Linked DNA regions of Homo sapiens: all the other regions are reported to be linked to region 1. The links are microRNA targets in miRTarBase. Many come from high-throughput screens and were not tested one by one. Region 1 holds a microRNA gene; each other region holds the end of a gene's coding sequence. Distances are from middle to middle.
Evidence for each region. Region 1 holds the annotated microRNA hsa-miR-1827 (UGAGGCAGUAGAUUGAAU, at 1,568-1,585, opposite strand). A microRNA usually pairs through its seed, bases 2 to 8, with sites in the 3' UTR of a target mRNA and lowers its output. Matches are read on the target gene's strand: a 7mer-m8 pairs with bases 2 to 8, a 7mer-A1 pairs with bases 2 to 7 and ends in A, and an 8mer does both.

Region 1 (3,098 bases):
TCTAACTAGTGTTCTGTGAAATACTCTGCCTAAAGTGCTCAGTTCAGTAAACATCCTGAGCACTCGGTTGTGTGAGACCATCTGAGGGGCAAGGAGCTGAGAGGATCCCTAGGGAGACTGTGGCTTTCATGATTGTCCAGTAGGCAGTAGCTCACCAGCCAGCACAGGGGGCCCTCAGTCGGCTAGAGATTCAGGATGGTTTTGCTCCCTGATCTAGTCTTTGAGCATCTGCTGTTGTGTCCTACTAGAGCATCACCTCCTAGGAGGAGATTTTGTCAGTATAGTTCACTACTGTGCCTTTCATGCTTAGAGGATGCCAGATGCTTATTGCCTAACCCAAGCTTTAAGCCCTCATATCCTCTTGGAGTGTGTGTGTGTGTGTGTGTGTGTGTGTGTGTGTGTGTGTGTGTAAACCTCTCCCTCTCTGGATCAGTGAGAGTGTTGTTAAGGTTACAAATAAGAAATGCCTAGCACACTGCCTGACTGATTGTAAGTGCTCTGTAAATGGTGGCTACACACCCCAGGCCTGCTGGCATTGCTGCCACTGTTGCCCCTCTGACTCTTTTGAGCCAGTAGGTGAAGTGTGTCTCCACTCCCTTGGGTGGAGTGGACAGGGTGCCTTTCTCAAGGGCAGTTGTGAGGGCTGAGCTGGCCGGGAAGGTGTGCTCTTCCTTCCAGGCCTCCCTCCCACAGGTCTTCTGCGGGCCCTGCAGTTGGCCCTGCTCTGACTCTTAGTTTTTGCTTCATTCTTGACCCACTCAGGCCTGGTAGAAAGAGTTATCTGTGAGCACGGCGGGGGTTCCCAAGAATCTATTATGGTTTTAGTGTCTAGGACTCTAAAGTCGTGACAGTGACTCGTCTCTTCAGCCCCTGTTTGCAGCAGAGGGCGCAAACCAGCTCAAAGCAGGCACACAGATGTTTGGTGAATTGGGAGAAGTTGTTCCTGTCCAGGAGCCATAACGTGGTATTTGTAATTTTCCTCGTTGGAAGGCATGGCTCTGTCTGCCAAGAAAGACAAGGCATGTAGTCACCATGCTGCTGCCTCACAGTGACATTTTTAAAGCCAGACCTTCTAGAGAAGGAAGCAGGAAGGAAGGCGACTTGCTTTTGGGCCCGTGGAGTTTCAGCAGTTGCGGGAAGTTGGCTGGGCTGTGTGTGTGTGTTGCTGCATTGGTGCCTGGTCTTCTTTGATAGCTCCCAGGAGCATGAGGTTGTGCTTAGCAGTTGTGTCCCATCAGTCCTCTTGGTCTCGATCAGTTCACACGCTCCCAGGGCCCCACGTATCAGAAGGGCCGCCGTTGCATAACACTGTCCATGGAAATCACTGCAGTCATGAGAGGAGCAGTGGCTTTGGCCTGTAGACTCAGAGACCTTTCACCATGACTCAGCATGGGAAGCGGAGGCTCAGAGAACTTCAGCCTGTCTTGTCCAGGGCCACCAAGGGAGCAACTGAGCCATGTCTTCTGTTATATTTAGAGTTGGGGGCTGAGGAGGGGCGCCTATCTGCATTCTCTGCCGGTCCTGGGTCCACCTGTTGCAGGGACCCAATTCTAAGGGACCTGAATCAATTCAATCTACTGCCTCAGCCTTTCAGAGGCTTCTCATTGCTTTAGGCTGAAGGCTGTGCTGCTGAACATGGCCTTCAGGGTCCCATGGGGTCTGACTCCTGTCATTTCCTCTGTTGCAGGCCCACTTGACTTCTTGCAGTTCTTCAGATGTATTGTCTTCCCGACAGGCCCTGCCTCAGGCTGTCCCTTTGCAGGGCGGGCTGTCTCTTCTCTGGTTACTTCTGTTCGTTCTTCAGAGAAGCCTTCCCTGTTCCTCCCATTCCTCACTGCCGTGCTTCTCCTTCACAGCCCTTACCACTGCCTGTAGTTACTGTATTTCTTTGTGTACTCATCTGTGGTCTAGCTCCCTTGCAAGGCTGGGAGCTCCATGGGGCAGGGACCCTGTCTGTCTTGTCTCTGGTTTACCCCAGTGCCTCACACGGCCTGGTACATAGTGGGTGTCCAGCATCGACTTGAGGAAGAGTGATGAGGGAAGGCTCCAGACCCTTTCAGGGGCAGAGTTGCTCTACTGCTCCTGCTCCTGCTGCTTGGGGCTCATCATCCTCTGCCCTGCACACCCGTGGCAGGGGGGGTCTGCCCACACCCACCTGCCTTTGTGCCACACTCCCTTCCCTAGCAGGACGATGGTTCCTCTCAGCACTGTCCTTTTTGTTTGGCCTCCTGGTGGGAGGTGAAGCCAGCTGGACTTCCTGGGTCGAGTGGGGACTTGGAGAACTTTTCTGTCTAGCTAGAGGATTGTAAACACACCAGTCAGCGCTGTGTCTAGCTAAAGGATTGTAAATGCACCAATCAGCACTCTGTAAAAACGCACCAATCAGTGCTCTGTGTCCAGCTAAAGGATTGTAAACACACCAATCAGTACTCTGTAAAATGGATCAATCAGCACTCTGTAAAATGGACCAATCAGCGCTCTGTAAAATGGACCAATGAGCAGGATGTGGGCAGGGACAAATGAGGGAATAAAAGCTGGCCACCCCACCCAGCAGCGGCAACCTGCTCGGGTCCCCTTCCATGCTGTGGAACCTTTGTTCTTTCGCTCTTCATCATAAATCTTACTGCTGCTCACTCTTTGGGTCCGTGCCACCTTTAAGAGCTGCAACACTCACCGCAAAGGTCTGCAGCTTCATTCTTGAAGTTGGCGAGACTAAGAACCCACCAGAAGGAACCAATTCTGGACACTGGGAAGGATGTTACCTTCGGACACAGTGTTGTTCACTTTTTTGACTGGGAACCGACAGCAGATAATACACCTTTGTATGTAAATGTATACTGTCAGTATGTACATAAAACTGAAAGAAAAATGTCACTGCTACATATAGTAAAGCTAAGTACTATTTTCTCTTTTAATACTAAAAAAAATGCTTGTCCCCTCAAAATTGACTTCTTATCTTCTTAATTTGATATCCTGGCCCACAGTGGGTCACCACTCAAGTTTAGAGAAGCCCATTCTGCAGGACTGCCTGGCTGTGCAGCTGGTGCTCCCTCCCTCCCTGCTGCATTTTCCTCTCCCCCTCACTGTGGGATGGGGCT
Region 2 (3,081 bases), not on the chromosome of region 1:
TTTTTTTTTTTGATAGTCAGTAATTGTTCAAACTAGGAATTGTATCCCCATCTTTCTTTTTTCATAATTACTCAGGTAATTGATGAGTGTAACAGAAGCTCCTCAAAACAGTTTTATTAAATTGCCTTTCATTTTTTGTGGTACGTGCTTGATCATGAATTTGTACATATTCTTTTGTAGGTAACAATTCAGGTTTTAAACCAGCTTATCCAAAAGATTCGAGAAGACCTCCCGAATCTTGAATCCAGTGAAGAAACAGAGCAGATTAACAAACATTTTCATAACACACTGGAGCATTTGCGCTTGCGGCGGGAATCACCAGAATCCGAGGGGCCAATTTATGAAGGTCTCATCCTTTAAAAAGGAAATAGCTCACCATACTCCTTTCCATGTACATCCAGTGAGGGTTTTATTACGCTAGGTTTCCCTTCCATAGATTGTGCCTTTCAGAAATGCTGAGGTAGGTTTCCCATTTCTTACCTGTGATGTGTTTTACCCAGCACCTCCGGACACTCACCTTCAGGACCTTAATAAAATTATTCACTTGGTAAGTGTTCAAGTCTTTCTGATCACCCCAAGTAGCATGACTGATCTGCAATTTAAAATTCCTGTGATCTGTAAAAAAAAAAAAAAAAAAAAACACAAAACCCACAAGCACTTATCTTGGCTACTAATGAAGCTCTCCTTTTTTTTGTTTGTTTGTTTGCTTCATTGTTGATTGTGTATTTTCTTCATTCCTGGGGAGTACTAACCCAAAAGCGTCTGTCTCTTGTTTTCTAGTCCAGTTTGAGATTAATTTAGAAGAAAGGAATACTGTATGTGAAATTCATCTTGGGCTTTCCCCTAAATTGCAAGATAAGGCCATGTGTAAGATTTTCCCTAAAACTAGAATATATTAATGCATGTTTGAGAATTTTAAAGCACCATGGTCAAAACCAGAAGCTATATTTTGCATATTTGGACTCAGCCATCCATTAAGAACCCATGTTGTCCTCTGGACATATTTATCAATATAATTGGGTTTTAAATAGTATAAAAGAAAACTTGTGATCTATATAATTTATGTATCACCTTCATTGTAAATTTAGCAGGAAATGCATCACAATTATGATTTTTTTTTTTGCACCAGTGAAACAATAAAGATGCTATTAACAATTTTGGAGCTTTTTTTCCCCTTTCATACTATCTTTAATTGATAAAAAGTACTAGTAGTATGGCTATAGAGTTTAATAGTCATTCTCATATATTCACAGAGCTCACTTAACTCTAGTTTTAAGCACTTGTTGAACAAGGCAGCATCTACTCTTTTAGTCATTTATACCCCTTTTCTTTCCTCAACTTTACCCTGCTTTTCCCAAGGCATGATGAATTCACATAAACCCCCCAAAGGCTCACCACCGATACTAGTTACCTACTATATAATAAACCATCCCAAAACTTACTGTCTTAAAACAGCAAACATTTATCTCACAGGTCTCTGGATCAGGAATTTGGGAGCAGCTTAGCTGGTGGTTCTGGCAAAGAGTGTGGTGTAAGGTTGCAAACAAGATACTGGTTGGGGCTGCAGTCATCTGATGCTTTGACTGGGGCTGACTTTTCTGCTCACTGACCTGGCTGTTAGGCAGAGGCCCCAGTTCCTCTTCTTGAGGGCAGAGGCCCCAGTTCCTCTCCTTGAGGGCAGAGGCCTAAGTTCCTTTCCTTGAGGGCAGAGGCCCCAGTTCCTCTCCTTGACGGCCCTTCCATAGAGTGTCCTCACAGCATGGTGGCTGGCTTTCCCCTGAGTATGAAAGCAAGAAGGAAACCACAGTGCCTTTCAGTGGCCTCCCTGTGGAAGTGACATGCTCATTTTTGCCTTATTCTGTAAGTGGGGAGTCACTAAGTCTAGCCTATATTCAAGGGTAAGGAGAATTAAGCTCCACCTCTTAAAGGGAAAATTTATAGACATTTTCAAATGACTACATCACTTAACCCCTCACCATCTGCCCTCCCATTGCTAGCACTTGATGACTAGCCCTTGCTGGGCTTTACATGAACAGATGTTTCCCAAAGTTATAAAATTAGTACCACTAAAATGTATCAAATGTTAAGCCATTCTGTGGTATGTCATAGTCCAGCAAACCCTTTCTGTTCTTTGTAGGTGTTAGTTTACCCCGTATAAACCTGATTATGGCTTGACATGTCCATATTATTTACATGTTTTGTGAAATACAACTGGAATAGTAGAAAAGACATGAGTCAAGAACACTTGAGTTGGAGAGCTTGGTTTGCAAGTAAGGTAATGTCAGTACAGTGTGTAAATTATCTCTTATTTTCTGGGTTGAGGTAAACCCAATTTTAAAAATAATAAACCAACAAAAGTAAATAAAAGTGAAACAAAAGCACTGCTAGTATCCTTAACTTACAGATTTTTTTTGTTGAACAAAAACTGGGTACCAGATATAGTTAGGCACTGAATCTAAAGGTGAAGAAGATCATAGCCTCTAGCTTCAAGAACGTTAGTCTGCTGTGAAGACAGACCTGTAGTTACAGAAGATGGTAAGGGTTTGTGCAGGAGAGCAGTGAAGAAGAGCTTTGAGGGATTGGGGATGGGGAAGTTCTGCAGAGGGTTGTATGAATTCTCATGGAACATCAAGTCCAATAGTTTATTTAGCCTTCTGAGGCCAGTGCTTTGGCCTGCAGTCCCAGGCTCCTCAGACCCATGGGCTGAAGCAAGTTATACTCTTGGCTGCCTGTAGTGAAATAGATATTTAGAAATTGACTTAGCATTTAAAACCCTTTATAGCAATTTGACAGAGTAATTTTATGTCTATTGGATGTAATAAATATTTGGCTTTGTGCTTTGTGTGTCTGCTATTCCCTGTTCTCCTTTTTTAGTAATTTTTATTGTGTCTTACAAAAAAGTACCTGTCCTTAATTGGGGTGTGGTGGGGAATCCCTCACAGGTGGATGGAAACGCTGAACCAGGGCAGGCTTGGTGCTGAATGGCATTAAATTCCAAGACTAGGGGATAGTTTGGGGGGACACATCTAGGAAGATGCTGTGACTGGATGAGAGATGCCTGCCGTGTTAGACTTTCCTACC
Region 3 (3,098 bases), not on the chromosome of region 1:
ATACCATTCCTAGTTCTAGGTGGCATGAGAGTTGGAGCCCAGCTCTTCAGGAGCGAGTGACTAGGAGGAAACTCCATGGGTCTCTTGCCAGCCACGAATACCTAAGAAAATGCTCTTCTCTCAGGCCCATCTCCCAGGCAATGTATCAGTGAATACATATGTAAAGTGTATGTCAGAAAATCGTACCAGATACTGAGTATCCAAAATATAAGCCTTAGGGTGGCAGGCAGACACAATAATTACAATATAGAGTGACAAGCGCCATAGAAACAGGTAAGGTTGGAAGTATTAGATTTAGTGTCTTGGCCTTAGAGAAGGGTTTAATGAAGTTATTTGACCCAGGTTAAGATCAACTGCCAGTATGATAGTCAAATTTATTACCTCTATTCCTTCTTCATACTTTCCCATCCCAAGGATTATTAATTGGGTTCCCCTAACATTTTCTCTCCCTTTCAAAAGCCCCAAGTAGTACTACTACTACTACTGGGGAACAGGAGATACAAACGCTTAACTAAGCGGCGGGCGGGGGTGGGGAGGAGGTGAAAGCAACTCCTTAAACCAACGTTCAGCATTCCAAATTTTAGCAGCTGCCAGGGAAATATATTTGCTCTCTTGTATTACTGACAGTTGTAATTACATAGGAAATCTTCAAAAGGGGAAGTAATTTGGATAATACCAAAACGTTATTTCCCTTTAATACAGATAACCCATATTTTCGCAGTTGAAATGATGCTTTTAACTTCCTGCCTCCTCCATTCCTTGAAAGTCGATTCAAAACATTTATGGTCACCTAGCAATGGTTCAATTCAGTCCAAGTGCTTGGAAAACCTGATTACAGGCATGGGCCCATTCCCCAGGAAAGTAAATGAAATAGTCACAATTTTGAATTTAACTTCCTGGGGAAAGGATGAAGGTAGGCAAGTACCTCTGAAAACCTGTACAGACTCCAGAATAAAAAAGTCCCAAATCTTTTTCAAAAAGGTATGAGTAAAAGGATCTGATATCATTGTACATATCCTTGCTCCATGCTGCTGTTGCCAAAGGATAAAAAAATAATTTGAGGTGGGACATACTCAGCAATTTCCAGTTGGATTCCCAGTTGAGTATTTTGCAAAAAAAGCATTAATGAATGAAATTTTTAAAAATATCTAAGTATATCCGATCCCACATACTGTACAAACTAGCTTAGAACAGTGGGATATGTAACTGATGATATAAAGGAAACAAGCTTAACAATTTTTCTTTTAGTTCCTACATGAACTTTCTAATACTGCCATTACTGAAGTTTACATGTTTTCATCAAGGGTTTTAGAGATGCATAAGAGAAGTATCAAAGTTAAGTTTAATAAAGTAAGTTCCTTCCATTTTGTAATGTATAAAATAATACCATTTAAACAGGCAGAAACTAGCTAATCTGCATTTATAGAGCATAGTTTTTTGGGTGGGAAAAAAGCATTCTTTCATCATTTCACCTTTACTAGAAGAAACAGACTTATGATGGTTCTTACTATTATTTTTCAACTTTAGAATTATTCATTCAGTAGAAGCTGTATTTCAAGTACCCAACCATTCTGTTTTTCACTTTCAATGTAATCTTCAAAAATTACATGAGATATTCAACATACTTTATTATAAAATAGGCTTTGTATTAGACGATTTTGCCCAACTGTAGGCTAATGTAGTGTTCGGAGCCCTTTTAAGGTAGGCTAAGCTATGATGTTTGACTTTTGGTATTTTCAACTCACAGTGGGCTTATCTGGACCTAAACCCATCATAAGTTGAGAAGCATCTGTATACCCAACATTGGTTATGTATACTTTCATTAAATACTCATTTGAAAAATAAAGCTTTCTTCACATTAACCCTGTGATGTAGGTCTTTAATTTTTGAAACTGCAAGAAACTGCAAAACAGGTTCCAAGATGAGCTCTTACTGATGTATATGGTATAATACGGTATGGCCAAAACCACTGCTTATGACCTCTCAAATATTCACACATCAAGGCCAGGCGCAGTGGCTTATGCCTGTAATCCCAGCACTTTGGGAGGCTGAGGCGGACGGATCCCTTGAGGCCAGGAGTTCAAGACCAGCCTGGTCAACATGGCGAAACCCCATCTCTACAAAAAATACAAAAAATTAGCCAGGCATGGTGGTGCATACCTGTAGTCCCAGCTACTAGGGAGGCTGAAGCAGGAGGATCACTTGAACTCAGGAGGCAGAGGCTGCAGTGAGCTGAGATTGCACCACTGCACTCTAGCCTGGGTGACAAAGTGAGACCCTGTCTGCCAACAAACAAATATTCACACATCACCCAGTATTAAGGAAGGGTCATCATTCAGAGAGGTTTTTCTGAGATAATCTATTAAATTACAATTTATAAAGAAATGTTTATAAATTTGTATGAAGTTATAAATTTATAAATATAAAAGTATAAATCCATATAGAGCTGTTTAAACAAGAAGTTTCCCTCTGAGAGGATTACAGACTATGCAATCTGCTACATGTGATTTCAGATAAATGATAAATTATACCTAATGTGTTAAGTATAACAATCAATTTTTGATATTTAAATTATCCTAAAACCTGTTGAGTGTGAATCCTCTTAAATCTTTCTTTTCTGTTTATGCTTCTGGCTGAGAATGGAAGAAGGGACGGAGGCTTCAAATGACTGAAATTGTTCAGCTGGTTTCTTGTGACCGACCACTGTAAAGTATTTTTCACCAGAGTCCAAAGGCAAGATAAAAAGTCTCTGACTTGAAATCAGAATCGATCTGCTGATCTGCTAGCCACAGCTCGAATATTGCCATAAACCTTGGAAGGAGGATTTCCTGCAAAGGGGAAAAAAAAGTATATACACAAATAAACTCACATTTATAGCGCCTACAGTTGTCCCTCAGTGTCTAAGGAAGACTGGTTTCAGGACTCCCACAGACACCACAATCCTTGGATGCTCAAGTCTCTTACATAAAAAATATGCACATTAACTACCCACATCCTCCCATATACTTTAAATCATCTCTAGATTACTTATAATACCTAATACAATGCAAATGCTATGTAAATAGTACTGTATTGTGTTTTAAAATTTGTATTATTTT
Region 4 (3,096 bases), not on the chromosome of region 1:
AAAAAAAAAGAAAAATCACATTAAACATATATGAGAAAATGAATTCCTGTCTTTTAAAAAATAATTGTCTCCACAAGTTACACGTACACTGATAGGATTTTAAGGACACCTGAGTATTTGGATTTCCCTTTTTAGAATGATTACATTAAATATAACCTGAAAATATTCCACATAGCCAAAAGTTAAAAATTTAAAACTTTTAGTGCTGTTAAAACTAAATGCTGTTTTAAAAAAATCCAGAAACTGAACTTCGTTACATAAAATGGGCTTAGCTAAATAAAACAATATAAATGCCTTTTTTAAAAAAGCATGGGCCAGGTGCAGTGGCTCATGGCTGTAATCCCAGCGCTTTGGGAGGCCAAGGTGGGCAGATCACTTGAGGTTAGGAGTTCAAGACTGGCCTGGCTAACATGGTGAAACCTCTTCTCTACTAAAAATACAAAAATTAGCCAGGCATGGTGGTGGGCACCTGTAATCCCAGCTACTCGGGAGGCTGTGGCAGGAGAATCACATGAACCCAGGAGGTAGAGGTTGCAGTGAGCCAAGATCGCACCACTGCACCCAGCCTGGGTGACACAGCAAGACTCTATGTCAAAAAAAAAAAAAAATCACGGTTAAGTTGTCCAATGCATCAATTTATTCAACTAATGTTTAACCAGTACCTACAGGCAATCTACTCTGCTAATTACTGGAAATGCAAAGACAGATACAATGTCTCTAAAATTTGGAATGTGTCTGTGTAAGAATTTAAAGCATAAAGAAATGCCCCTCAATATAATGATATAACTTGTTGAATTAAAATAGTTCAGCTGTCAGTTATTGAAAACTAGTAAAAAGACTTAACTTTCACCACAATCTTTAGTAAAACTTAGAATGAGACTTACTTCTACTTATAGTCTTGGTTTAAAAAGCATAGCACACTACATCAAGTAGGCCCTAGGCATTCATATTTGTTTGCAGAATAAATATGCTATGGTCCATTTCTCAGCAGTCTAACTCTGTAAGGCAGTTCTTATATTTTAAGTGTCTAAAACACGTGTCTTCTTGATACAGGAGGAAATACTGAATTATTCATAACACAGATGAAAGTATTTTTCATCTACTTATATCCACCCTTCTTAAAAAGCATGCCTTCAACCCCCATTTGCATAGCTCCTCTGCTAACTTTTAGCCATTCCCTCTTATGAATGTACTGCCCTCTTTGTCTGAAGGCATCTGTCTCCATCAACATTTCATTTCTTACAGGAGCAGGGGCAGTGAGCTCTCCAGTTCATTCAGCCTTAAGTAGAGGAAGGGGCCCCTCACAGCTCCTAAGTTAGCCTTCTGGTACTCTTAGCAGAGTCTGGTACTCTTAGCAGAGTCTGCTACCCCAGGGCTGCAGAGTCTACCTGGGTTAGGTGCTAGTTGTTTACCAGGGTTCAGCATCAGTCTGAACTGAGCTTCTATACAGCAAGTGGCCACTAAGTGCCTTAGTGGTTTCTGGTTACACCTGGGGAACAGGGTCCTTAATATCCTAAAAGAATATTTTTATACTGATAGTTATTTTATCCACGTAAAATAAATCACTCATTTAATTAAATAGTTTTATAAAAGAAAAATTATTTATAAAAGAAAAACTATTATAAATAAATAATGAAATTCATAATGAAATTGAATATTTATTTGAATTTCTCCTGGTAATAGCACTCAACAAATAAGAAAAACCGAGCTGTGAGATTTTGTTTTAAATGTAGCCATATTTCAAAAGGTAAAAAGTTGGCTTCTATATTTAATGGCAAGTGGGACATCTTCTATTTTAAAATTAACATTCAAAAAGTAGTAAAATATACACTATCATGAACACGATGTGTTTTATAGAATGGATTCATGTCCGAATACTAATCTGAATGTGGAAGAAATGTATTATCTGTTAAAAACCACACTGGAAAAATGTTCTTTTTTATAAAAAGTAGCTTGAAGTAAAAAGGAACTTGCTAATAAAGCCAGTAAACTTTCACACGTGGGATTTTTAAAAAATCTCCACCCATCCCACCTCTGAAAAAAAAAGAAGGAGAAGAATAAAAGAAAGAAAAAGAAAAAACCCATATGGTCAATCTGAGTAGAGCCATTCATTACATGACTGCTCATTCTGTACAATGTGGAAGCCTGGTTATTTAGGAAATATTTCGTTTCCTAAAGTGCATCTTTTGAAGATTTGCCTAGTAAAACTGCAATATCATATACAAAACACTTAACACAAGACATGCAATAACAAAGCTAAATCATTCCAGTGTAAAGTTGTTAAAACTACTTTTAAAACTTTTGTTTCACCAAGAAATAAAGATGTAAAATACAGTAGCATTCTTGTTCTCCAACAGTATGCATTGTATGCTTTTGTTATTTGGCAAATCTTTTAGAGTCGAACAAAAATAATAGTCTAAACAACATTTCTTCTGTCATTATAATACGAATCCCGGGCAGAACAGTAAGATGTAGAGGAAGAGTTAGATTTTTGGAAGCTTTGGTGCATTAACCACAGGATTTGCCTCGTGCAAGTATCTCCTCCCTGCACTCTTGTAATCATAGGTACAGCCATGAGTTTCTGCATAACGATGAGATGCACAGAAGTTGTTTCCACATCTAAAGCACAAAAAAAGTTTACGTGAATAGTTGTATTTCTATGAAAGGCTCATCTGTCTGGGAGACAGGAGCTTGACTTCAGGTAGTCCAACAGGGGCCCTTTGGTTCTTTTTAGCAATTTCACTGCTGACATTTCCCTTCCATTCGTAAACAAGCATAAATACCCCCAAAAAGAACAAGTTAATTATCTACGAATATGACAATTTATGATAAAGAAGTCATTATTGACTGAAACAGGGTAGACCAGGGGCGGTGGCTCAAGCCTGTAATCCCAGCACTTTGGGAAGCCGAGGCGGGTGGATCTCCAGGCCATCCAGGCCAACATGATGAAAACCCATCTCTATTAAAAATACAAAAATTAGCTGGGTGTGGTGGCGTGCATCTATAGTCCAGCTACTCGGGAGGCTGAGGCAGGAGAATCGCTTGAACCCAGGAGGTGGAGGTTGCAGTGAGCCAAGATCGTGCCACTGCACTCCA
Region 5 (3,000 bases), not on the chromosome of region 1:
AATGTGGTGAGTGTGGGAAATGCTTCAATCAGAGCTCAAGCCTTATCATTCACCAGAGAACCCACACAGGAGAAAAGCCCTATCAATGTGAAGAGTGTGGAAAAAGCTTCAATAACAGTTCTCATTTTAGTGCACATCGGAGGATACACACAGGAGAGAGACCCCATGTGTGTCCTGACTGTGGAAAGAGTTTCAGTAAGAGTTCTGACTTACGTGCACATCATAGAACCCACACAGGAGAGAAACCCTATGGGTGTCATGACTGTGGTAAGTGCTTCAGTAAAAGCTCTGCCCTTAATAAGCACGGAGAAATCCATGCACGGGAAAAGCTTCTGACACAGTCAGCTCCCAAGTAAGCCCCTGAGGATATATAACGGAAAGAGGCTCAATAAATGTATTGTTTAGAAAGTCTTCCAATAGTGAGATTCATCTACTATTCTGTGTCCAGTTAGCTTAGGAAATTCACTTTAGGATTTATGCCACTGTTTGTTCCTTGTTTTTCCTGATCTAGACTCAAATCCCCAAGGCAGTCTAAAGAATGAAAGGAAGATTTCAGTCCCTCTCTTTGCCTGCATCTGAATTGATGGATAACATCTTTTCCCTCTCAGTGCCTATGGTGTTCCCTTAATATAAGCACAGAGGACAAGGTAATAGATCCTATGAATTTGATAAGCATCCTTCTTTACTCATTCTGTCATTCAGCTGCATTTTGACAGGAAAAACCCATTACATTTCGAGAAGAAGTTATGAGACTTTGCCCATTAGGTGGGTCTAGCTCTTTTTTTTTTTTTTGGAGACGGAGTTTTGCTCTTGTTGCCCAGGCTGGAGTGCAATGGCACGATCTCAGCTCACTGCAACCTCTGCTTCCCGGGTTCAAGTGATTCTCCTGCCTCAGCCTCCCAAGTGGCTGGAATTACAAGCATGCGCCACCATGCCCAGCTAATTTTATATTTTTAGTAGAGATGGGGTTTCTCCATGTTGGGCAGGCTGGTCTCAAACTCCCGACCTCAGGTGATCTGCCTGCCTCGGCCTCCCAAAGTGCTGGGATTACAGGCATGAGCCACTGCGCCGGGCTTTTTTTTTTCGAGATGGAGTCTCACTCTGTCGTCCAGGCTGGAGTGCAGTGGCATGATCTCAGCTCACTGCAACCTCTGCCTTCTGGGTTCAAACAATTTTCCTGCCTCAGCCTCCTGAGTAGCTGGGATTACAGCCACCTGCCACCATACCAGGCTAAATTTTGCATTTTTAGTAGAGATGGGGTTTCACCATGTTGGCCAGGCTGGTTTTGAATTGACCTCATGATCTGCCTGCCTAGGTCTCCCAAAGTGCTGGGATTACAGGTGTGAGCCACTGCACCCGGCCCAGCTCTTCTTTATACAATAATGGAAATGCTAAAATGAATGACTCTTCCTGCTCACTTAAACCTGTGCTCAAAATGACATATTTGTCAGGCACCCTCTTCATTTACCTTAAAGAAGGAGAGTTTAATGTCCATCTTGGTTCTGCCCTATGAATCATCTTGTCAAGAACAGGTGTTCTTATGCAGAAACAATGAAAACCTTATACTGAAGTGTGAACCCTGGATTTCTTAGTTTCTTCTGAGTCCTAGAAGAAGGGTTGGAATAGAATAATACATTTACAGGATTTAGGTTGGTTTTCTTTCTGTCCAGTCTCATCTGAATTTCGTCTGTCTCTTGTGGTCCAGAAGTTCCACAGAGCAACGCAGCTGCATGTGGTGACAGGTAGAGCAGTTAAAGCTGCCAATAGGAACTCGTCCATATTCCACACACCTGGTATAGTGTTATGCCCTCCATGGGCACTTACCTGCAATAAGCAGAAGCCACTGCCACATTCCCGTGTATTGGGAAAATGGACTACTGTGTGCGAACAGGCCCTTTACCCTAATGGCAGGGAAGATGGATTATCTTTGGCCAGTGGAGCTGCCAATCTAGACATACACATTCAACTGAATACAATTAAAAGCAGTTCTTTAAATGCAAATATAATTACTCATCTTTATAATACAATAGTATTAACTGCCCATATGCTCATAGTATGATGAGCCCTGTATAGCACAAGGTCAACAGGTCCTCTCCTTGTCCTTACAATCTAAAGCAGATGACACTGACATGGACAAACAAGTGCACATGCATAGTTGCGGCAGTTTTAGAGAAATCTAGAAAGCTAGGTAGCAACACTATGCATAAATGTTGTGGTCCAATGCATTAGTTTGCTTTAACAAAAATCTGGGAGGTATTTTTTCTCTTTATTCAGGAAGGCTTCATGAAGCAGGAAGTGGTCAAAGGAGGGAAGGTTACTGGTTAAATTATGATAGGAAGAACTTTCCATAACTAGTTGCAAAATTGAGTGCTGGGTGGGTTGAGGAATGGGAAAAAGGGGGAGCAAGGTGTTTTGTGTAGATGGAACAAAGGGCAAAGGATAGACTGTAAGGAAGGCCAGATAAAGCTTGGAGTAGCATGAGAACTTGAGGAATAGTATGATATGGGCTGTGCAGCAGGCAGAGAGAATCACCTTAGCTGAAACATGGGTGTTAGGAGCAGACCATGAGGTGGTAGAACCATCATCTATAGTAAATCAGGTACTACGCTATAACTATTGATAAGGAAACAGCTGACTGCCACTGAAAGAATAAGCAGTTTTAGGGGACTAGCTCCTATGGGAGATAAAGGTCAGAAATCGTAGTATCTGATGAAGATATTTTGATGAGCAGGTGAGAAGAAAGATAAACATGGCCAGATGGCCAAGGACTGGGATAAGTAGCCGTTTCACATTCAATTAGAATTCTGTGGCTGGAATAAGATCAGGGAGAGCAGTAGGAAGATATAGTATTCTATAATTCATAGCTTGTTGTGTTAGAGATTAATTAGGATTCTGCTGTTGAATCTTAGTACAAAAAAATCTAATATTTATTAGGAATTAAGGGAAGATGGTACTTCTGTTATGTTGCCTAAGCAGACAGGAAGCTACAAGAAACACCAG
Region 6 (3,093 bases), 94 Mb from region 1:
AGCATCAGAATTTTAACCCCAAGCAGTCTGGCTCCAGAGTCTGTGCTATTGTTCTGTACTGTAATGTTCCTTGTCTATAGGTGCTGCTCAGCAAGATGCAACCGTGGGTTGAAAGCTTAGCTGGTGTAGGATGAGTTCTCTTGTCTTGGATCTAATGTGTTCTCTCACATTACACAGGAAACTTTGAAAAGCACCCCAAAGAACTGATCAGGGGGCCCATATGGCTTCGAGGTTGGAAAGGGAATGAATTGCAACGTTGTATCCGAAAGAGGAAAATGGTTGGAAGTAGAATGTTCGCTGATGACCTGCACAACCTTAATAAACGCATCCGCTATCTCTACAAACACTTTAACCGACATGGGAAGTTTCGATAGAAGAGAAAGCTGAGAACTTCGGAAAAGGCTCATCTGTCACCCTGGAGAAGGGAAACTGTACTTTTCCCTGTGAGGAAACGGCTTTGTATTTTCTCTGTAATAAAATGGGGCTTCTTTGGAATTTGATAGCCACATACTTTTGTTTTCCTCTAGATGCTGCCTCTACTCATGTAGACTATGAAGTCTTGACTCATCCTAGATCTTAGGATCTTAGGTTTGGGCTTCACACCACTTGCCTTTTACAGTCTAGCTATACCTAATTCCTTTAAAAAGAAAAGTTGGTGAGAATGTTATTGGCGCTTTTTGACATAATGCTGTTATGTTAATAGTGTTTCTAAAGAGCCTTCCACACTGAAATGAAATATAAGAGAAAAATGGAGTCATACTTCTGTACTACTCTCATAAAATATTTATTAGGCATATTCTCTGAGTAGGAACTATAGGAAAAACAAAAAAGTGTGAGGTGTCCTTTCCATTTAAATATGAAACATTAAGTACCATATGAATGGTAGAGATGGCGGATACTAAGCCTGACTGGTCATCAGTTTTCTGGGTGTTTTAACATTTCAAAAGCCTAGTCCTAACCCCTAAAGATTGATCAGTAGAGCTGAGTTGAGTCTAGGGCATCTATGTGTTTTGTTCTTTTTTAATAATAATTTTTAAGAATTACAGCTGGGCAGAATGGTGCCCACATGTAATCCCAGCATTTTGGGAGGCTGAGGTGGGAGGATTGCTTGGAGACAGGAATTTGAGACTGGTCTGGGCGACATGGTGAAACTCCGTCTCTACTAAAAATAAAGTGGCTGGGTGCGGTGGCTCCTGCCTGTAATCCCAGCACCTTGGGAGGCGGAGGGGGGCGGACCACGAGCTCAGGAGATCGAGACTATCCTGGCTAACACAGCCCTGTCTCTACTGAAAATACAAAAACAAACAAACAAAAAAATTAGCCAGGAGTGGTGGCGGACACCTGTAGTCCCAGCTACTCAGGTGTCTGAGGCAGGAGAATCACTTGAACCTGGGAGGTGGAGCTTGCAGTGAGCCGAGATCGTGCCACTGCACTCCAGCCTGAGCAACAGAGCAAGACTCTGTCTCAAAAAAAAAAAAAAAACAACTTAGCTGGGCATGGTTCTGCATGCCTGTAGTTCCAGCTACTCATGGTTCTGCGTGCCTGCAGTCCCAGCTACACAAGAGGCTGAGGTGGGAAGATCACCTGAGCCCAGGAGTTTGAGGCTGCAGTGAGCTGAGATCATGCCACTGCATTCCAGCCTGAGCAACTGGGGTGAGACTGTCTCAAAAAAAAAAAAAAAAAAAAAGTGAAGTTAGGGCTGGGTGCAGTGGCTCACACCTGTAAGCCCAACACTTTGGGAGGCCAAGGCATGAGGATTGCTTGAAGCCAGGAGTTCAAGACCAGCCTGGGCAACATAGCAAGACCCCATCTCTATATTTTAAAAAACAAAAACTCCATAAAAGTGAAGTTAGATTAATAAATACTTGTTGCGGGGCATGGTGGTTGGAGCACACTTATAATCCCAGCTACTCTGCAGGCTGAGGTGGGAGGATCCTTTGAAACCAGGAGTTGGAGGCCAGCCTTAGGAACATAGCAAGACCCCATCTTCAATAAAAATAAAAAGCACTTGTTAAATTACAAGTGGGTTTTGGATAAATGGATTGATGGGTATATATGAAAACATGATCCTGGGTCTTACGGAAATGTTTAGGAGAGTCAGTTTTCAGAGGGGTGGCTGGAAGGAGCTATGCATAAGAATGGAGAAGTTGATGTGAAATGTGAGTGGCTGTATACTTTACATGATTTGGTGGTGCTAGAGTGGAGAAAATAAAATATTTGGGACTCTGCTAAGTGCAAGGTGCCCTGAAGAAGATATCTACATATCCTGGTAGAGTATCTGATTGTTAGGGAAGAGGAAATTAATAGGTCAATAGGCATTTATAGAATATTTCCTGATTCAAAGATACAAAAGGTTTTGTTTTCAAGGACAGAACAATCTTGTTTGTGGTATGAAACAGTATATAACGTTTTCTTTGAATAAATATTGAATTATTATGTGCAAAGATATTTGGAGGAACAAAAATCACCAAGGTAGGGTTGGTTCCTACCTCTAAGTAGTCTTCATTCTACTTAAAAGATGTCCGGTGGCTCACACCTGTAATCCCAGCACTTTGGAAGGCCTAGGTGGGCGGATCACGAGGTCAGGAGATCAAGACCATCCTGGCCAACATGGTGAAACCTCGTCTGTACTAAAAATACAAAAAAATTAGCCAGGTATAGTGGTGTGTGCCTGTAATCCCAGCTACTCGGGAGGCTGAGGCAGGAGAATCGCTTGAATCCGGGAGACAGAGAGGTTGCAGTGAGCTGAGATTGCACCATGCACTTCAGCCTGGGCAACAGAGGGAGACTCTGTCTTTAAAAAAAGAAAAAAAAAAAAAAAAAGACGTCTGAAGGATGTAAAGTTACAAGATGGTGGACCAATGTGATACTCTGCAGAATGTGCAAATGGTCCACATTTTTTAGATTACATCATGACAGAGAACAGAATTAACATAGCCCTGATGAAAGACCATGACTGTATACTGTTGTTCATCCCCTCCGTGGTGGACTGCTTCTGACCAACATGCTTTAGAAAAGAATGTTGGTTGGGCATGCTGGCTCAGGCCTGTAATCCCAGCACTTTGGGGGGCCAAGGTGGGCGGATCACCTGAG
Region 7 (3,098 bases), not on the chromosome of region 1:
TGGTGCAGTTCAGGGCTGAAAAGTGCTGCCTGGGATGGCAAAGCATTCTCTGAAGGTTTATGCAAATTTCTGCAGCAAAAAAGTGTTCGCTTGTTGCCTCAATGCTTGGATGTTGACACATTTGAGCCCATTAGAAGGGCATCTTGTGCGCAAGTCACTGCCAGTCTGTCTGCATGAAACACCATGATGGGGGGTGGGGATGTCTAGTCAGTGTAAGAAAGAAGGTGGCGAGTGTGTGTGATGTGTAATTCCCCCAGGTCTTTATTTGAACACAAATCTATGCTCTTTCCCAGCTACAAAAGGAAACATTTACCTACATGAATAATCAACACTCTGGGCGTGTGTGTAAGCTATGTATACATACAAATTCATAATCTAATATATACCAGCTATTGCAACAGTCTGTCTGTACATGAGGTATGAATTTACCATGGTTTAGGCGGCCAGTGGGGCCAGAAGTTACACTTTGAGACCAGCACAGAATGCTGAAGAAATGACAATTTTATCTCCTCTTCCTTCCTTGATTTCCGTACCCACCCATACACAGGGCTCCCACCTGACAGTCTTGCCAACATTATTTCAGGGTTCTAAAAGTATCTGGTGAGCATCCTTGAGCAGGAGACAGCCAGTTTTGCTAATATATAAAGAAGTCCTGAGTCCCTTAAATCCAGGGCAGCTGGATTTCAGCCAGCACTGGTCTTTGGATGGTTTACACTGGAGGCTGTTCCCCAGCCTCTTGGCCCTTGGCATCCTTACTCTGTACCAGCTGACAGCAGAGTCTTAAGCAGTGCACAGAGCAAAACATTCTCAAATCCAGCATAGGCATTTGCAGCTGTCTCTTGGAGTGCAAATGTTTAAGTTCTGGGCCACCTGTGATTTAAAATTATCTTTCCTGGCTCAGGTCAGAGAATGTCACAGCCATCACTTCTTCCCAGCATGGAAAGCCAGGTGGTGCTTTCCTTCTGACCTGGCCAGTGGCAACATTTCTGTGTCCATGAAGCCACAGGCAAACAGCCTGATAAAACCCGATGAGGTGACCCTGGCGCAAAACTATAGGATTCCATTTTTCTTATCTATGTAATAAAAGCAACTCTGGAAATAAAAATTTACCCCTTTGAAAATAAACATGGTTAGAGAAAGCAGAGAGCTCTTCGATGACTACCTAACAAAGGTGCTTTCCCTTTTTCGGGAATGTTACTTTACTTGAATTTCTCCTCTTTTCTCCCGCTCCTCTTCCCCCCACTTTCCCCTGTAAAATGGCAGCTGCAGGAGCAGCCTCCAATGGAAAATGGATATCTTGTTAATAACAGATGCCAAACCCCAGCATCAACGCCGGCTCAGTGCAATAAGCTGTGGTGTAACATGGACTTTGCGTTGTCCCCCACTGGGCCTACAACTTGAGTCCTTTAAGAGGATCAAAGCTCTCAGAGCATCTTAGCAAGATTATTTAGAGCAAGATAGACTAGCCAGTCCTCTCTGAAAAAGAAGGGGCCCCTGCGGCCTTTTTTTTTTTTTTTTTAAACAGCGCGGAATGTGTGTAACCCCACCCCTTTCTTATTAAACAGAAGCCTTGAGCGAGTCCTTTCCTTCGTGCGAGCCCAGGCGATTGTTAGTGATTCATGGAAAAGGGGTATTTGCGGCGCTCAAAGACACTAGCTCCAGAAAGAGATTCATTTATTTACTAAGGAGCTAGCGACATTCCGGAGTTGTTTACACTCAGGTTTTTCTGCGTTTCCTCTCAGGGCTTGTTTCAAATAGGTGAGGCTATCGCTTTCCTGAAGAACAGCGGAGGACGTACCAACCGACGTCTGAGATGCACACAGCAAGCTGGTTTAAAACCAGCGGCGAACAGAACAAAGGCAATACAAATAAATATGACACCTACTGAAAATAACGGAACACAGCGGCAGCCACCGCATAAAGAACTAGCGATTTCAGGCGATTACAAGGGCGGTTCAAAACGAAAGCAAGTTAAAAAATGAGACGCATTTTACAAGGCGATTTGCCAGAGTTGCCAGATTATTTAATTTGTATGGACTATAGAAAAATAATTGTCAACTTGGACATTGTCTTTAAATTCTTGTCACTGGCCCAATCTTTTTCTTAAGTTTAAGGAAGCTGCAGAGCTGGACTACAAGTTACATTCTTCAGCTAATACGTGCTTTTCTAATATTTTCCCCGAGATATTACATTTAGAAAATACGCAAAGAAACCTTTTAGGAGTAAACAAAACGCACCCGAACTATTCATTATAAAGGAAAGAATAAAAAATCCATAAATAATACATTGTAATCAAATAATATAAAGTATTCTGCAGACATAATTTTTTTTAATTAATAAACTCCTTTTAATTTACTCACCACAAATATTAAAATGTTCAAGTGCACTTGTTTAATTAATAAAGCATTTTATATGCAATTATTAAGTGCTAATCATTAGGAAGTTTACGTTGTTGAGGCAAATCACTAGCTCAGACATTAAAAACCATTATAAAAATATAGCTACAAGGTCAGTATCAAATTACCCTTCCATAGGACAGCTCAAGGACAGCTTCTATGTGATACTAGAAACTTTTTTAAACACCCAAATCCCTCTCAAAGCACAGAAAACCTCAAGAGCAGTGACATGAAGGTAGCTTGAAACACAGGTAAGGTCCTTTCCAACAAAGAAAATAGGTGGTGTCCACAGCATATGGTGATTATTAGTTTTAATAGTCTGTGGTAAATTTTAAAGGTAGAAGTTAATTTGTCAGGCCTTCGGCTCTGTCTTCCTCCAGCTCTTGGGCTTCCTTTTTCGTTTCCCCGTCCTTCACCTCCTGCCGGGAAACGGGAAATTTGTCCTTGTTGTTTTCCTTTTTCCATTTCATTCTCCTGTTCTGGAACCAGATTTTTACCTGTCTCTCGGTGAGGGCTAGGGCGTGGGAAACCTCGATTCTTCTTTTCCTGGTCAGATAGGGGTTAAAAAGAAATTCCTTTTCCAACTCTAGAGTTTGGAAGCGACTGTAGGTTTGTCTTCCTCTTCGTCTACCAGGAGCTGCTGATTAAAACAAAAAAAAAGGGGGGGGGAATAAAAGTTTTAAAAATGTTATGGTACCTCTG

Region 2: the mRNA of VPS35 is a reported target of hsa-miR-1827. The part of its 3' UTR that is shown has no 7-base or 8-base seed match.
Region 3: the mRNA of PNO1 is a reported target of hsa-miR-1827. Seed matches in the 3' UTR shown: 7mer-m8 at 2,213-2,219.
Region 4: miRTarBase lists ZFAND4 as a target of hsa-miR-1827. The part of its 3' UTR that is shown has no 7-base or 8-base seed match.
Region 5: the mRNA of ZSCAN29 is a reported target of hsa-miR-1827. Seed matches in the 3' UTR shown: 8mer at 887-894, 7mer-m8 at 1,021-1,027 and 8mer at 1,178-1,185.
Region 6: miRTarBase lists MRPL51 as a target of hsa-miR-1827. Seed matches in the 3' UTR shown: 7mer-m8 at 531-537.
Region 7: miRTarBase lists HOXD8 as a target of hsa-miR-1827. Seed matches in the 3' UTR shown: 7mer-A1 at 2,454-2,460.

What each region holds. Positions count from the first base shown.
Region 1 is chr12:100,188,419-100,191,516 of GRCh38, reverse strand. MIR1827 (microRNA 1827) reads right to left here and starts at 1,633; the gene lies at 1,568-1,633.
Region 2 is chr16:46,657,751-46,660,831 of GRCh38, reverse strand. VPS35 (VPS35 retromer complex component) reads left to right here. Exons shown (of 17, transcript NM_018206.6): 17 at 181-3,081. The coding sequence ends at 360. Among named protein-coding and RNA genes, the nearest start is that of VPS35, 30 kb to the left of the region's middle.
Region 3 is chr2:68,174,465-68,177,562 of GRCh38, reverse strand. PNO1 (partner of NOB1 homolog) reads right to left here. Exons shown (of 7, transcript NM_020143.4): 7 at 1,325-2,828. The coding sequence ends at 2,761. Among named protein-coding and RNA genes, the nearest start is that of PNO1, 18 kb to the right of the region's middle. RefSeq lists an enhancer at 1,776-1,945.
Region 4 is chr10:45,613,953-45,617,048 of GRCh38, forward strand. It overlaps ZFAND4 (zinc finger AN1-type containing 4), which reads right to left. Exons shown (of 10, transcript NM_174890.4): 10 at 1,548-2,619. The coding sequence ends at 2,484. Among named protein-coding and RNA genes, the nearest start is that of ZFAND4, 57 kb to the right of the region's middle.
Region 5 is chr15:43,358,429-43,361,428 of GRCh38, reverse strand. ZSCAN29 (zinc finger and SCAN domain containing 29) reads left to right here. Exons shown (of 6, transcript NM_001372080.1): 6 at 1-3,000. The coding sequence ends at 356. Among named protein-coding and RNA genes, the nearest start is that of ZSCAN29, 11 kb to the left of the region's middle.
Region 6 is chr12:6,489,552-6,492,644 of GRCh38, reverse strand. It overlaps MRPL51 (mitochondrial ribosomal protein L51), which reads left to right. Exons shown (of 3, transcript NM_016497.4): 3 at 178-759. The coding sequence ends at 374. Among named protein-coding and RNA genes, the nearest start is that of MRPL51, 2.2 kb to the left of the region's middle.
Region 7 is chr2:176,131,255-176,134,352 of GRCh38, reverse strand. It overlaps HOXD8 (homeobox D8), which reads right to left. Exons shown (of 2, transcript NM_019558.4): 2 at 1,658-3,036. The coding sequence ends at 2,741. Among named protein-coding and RNA genes, the nearest start is that of HOXD8, 3.1 kb to the right of the region's middle.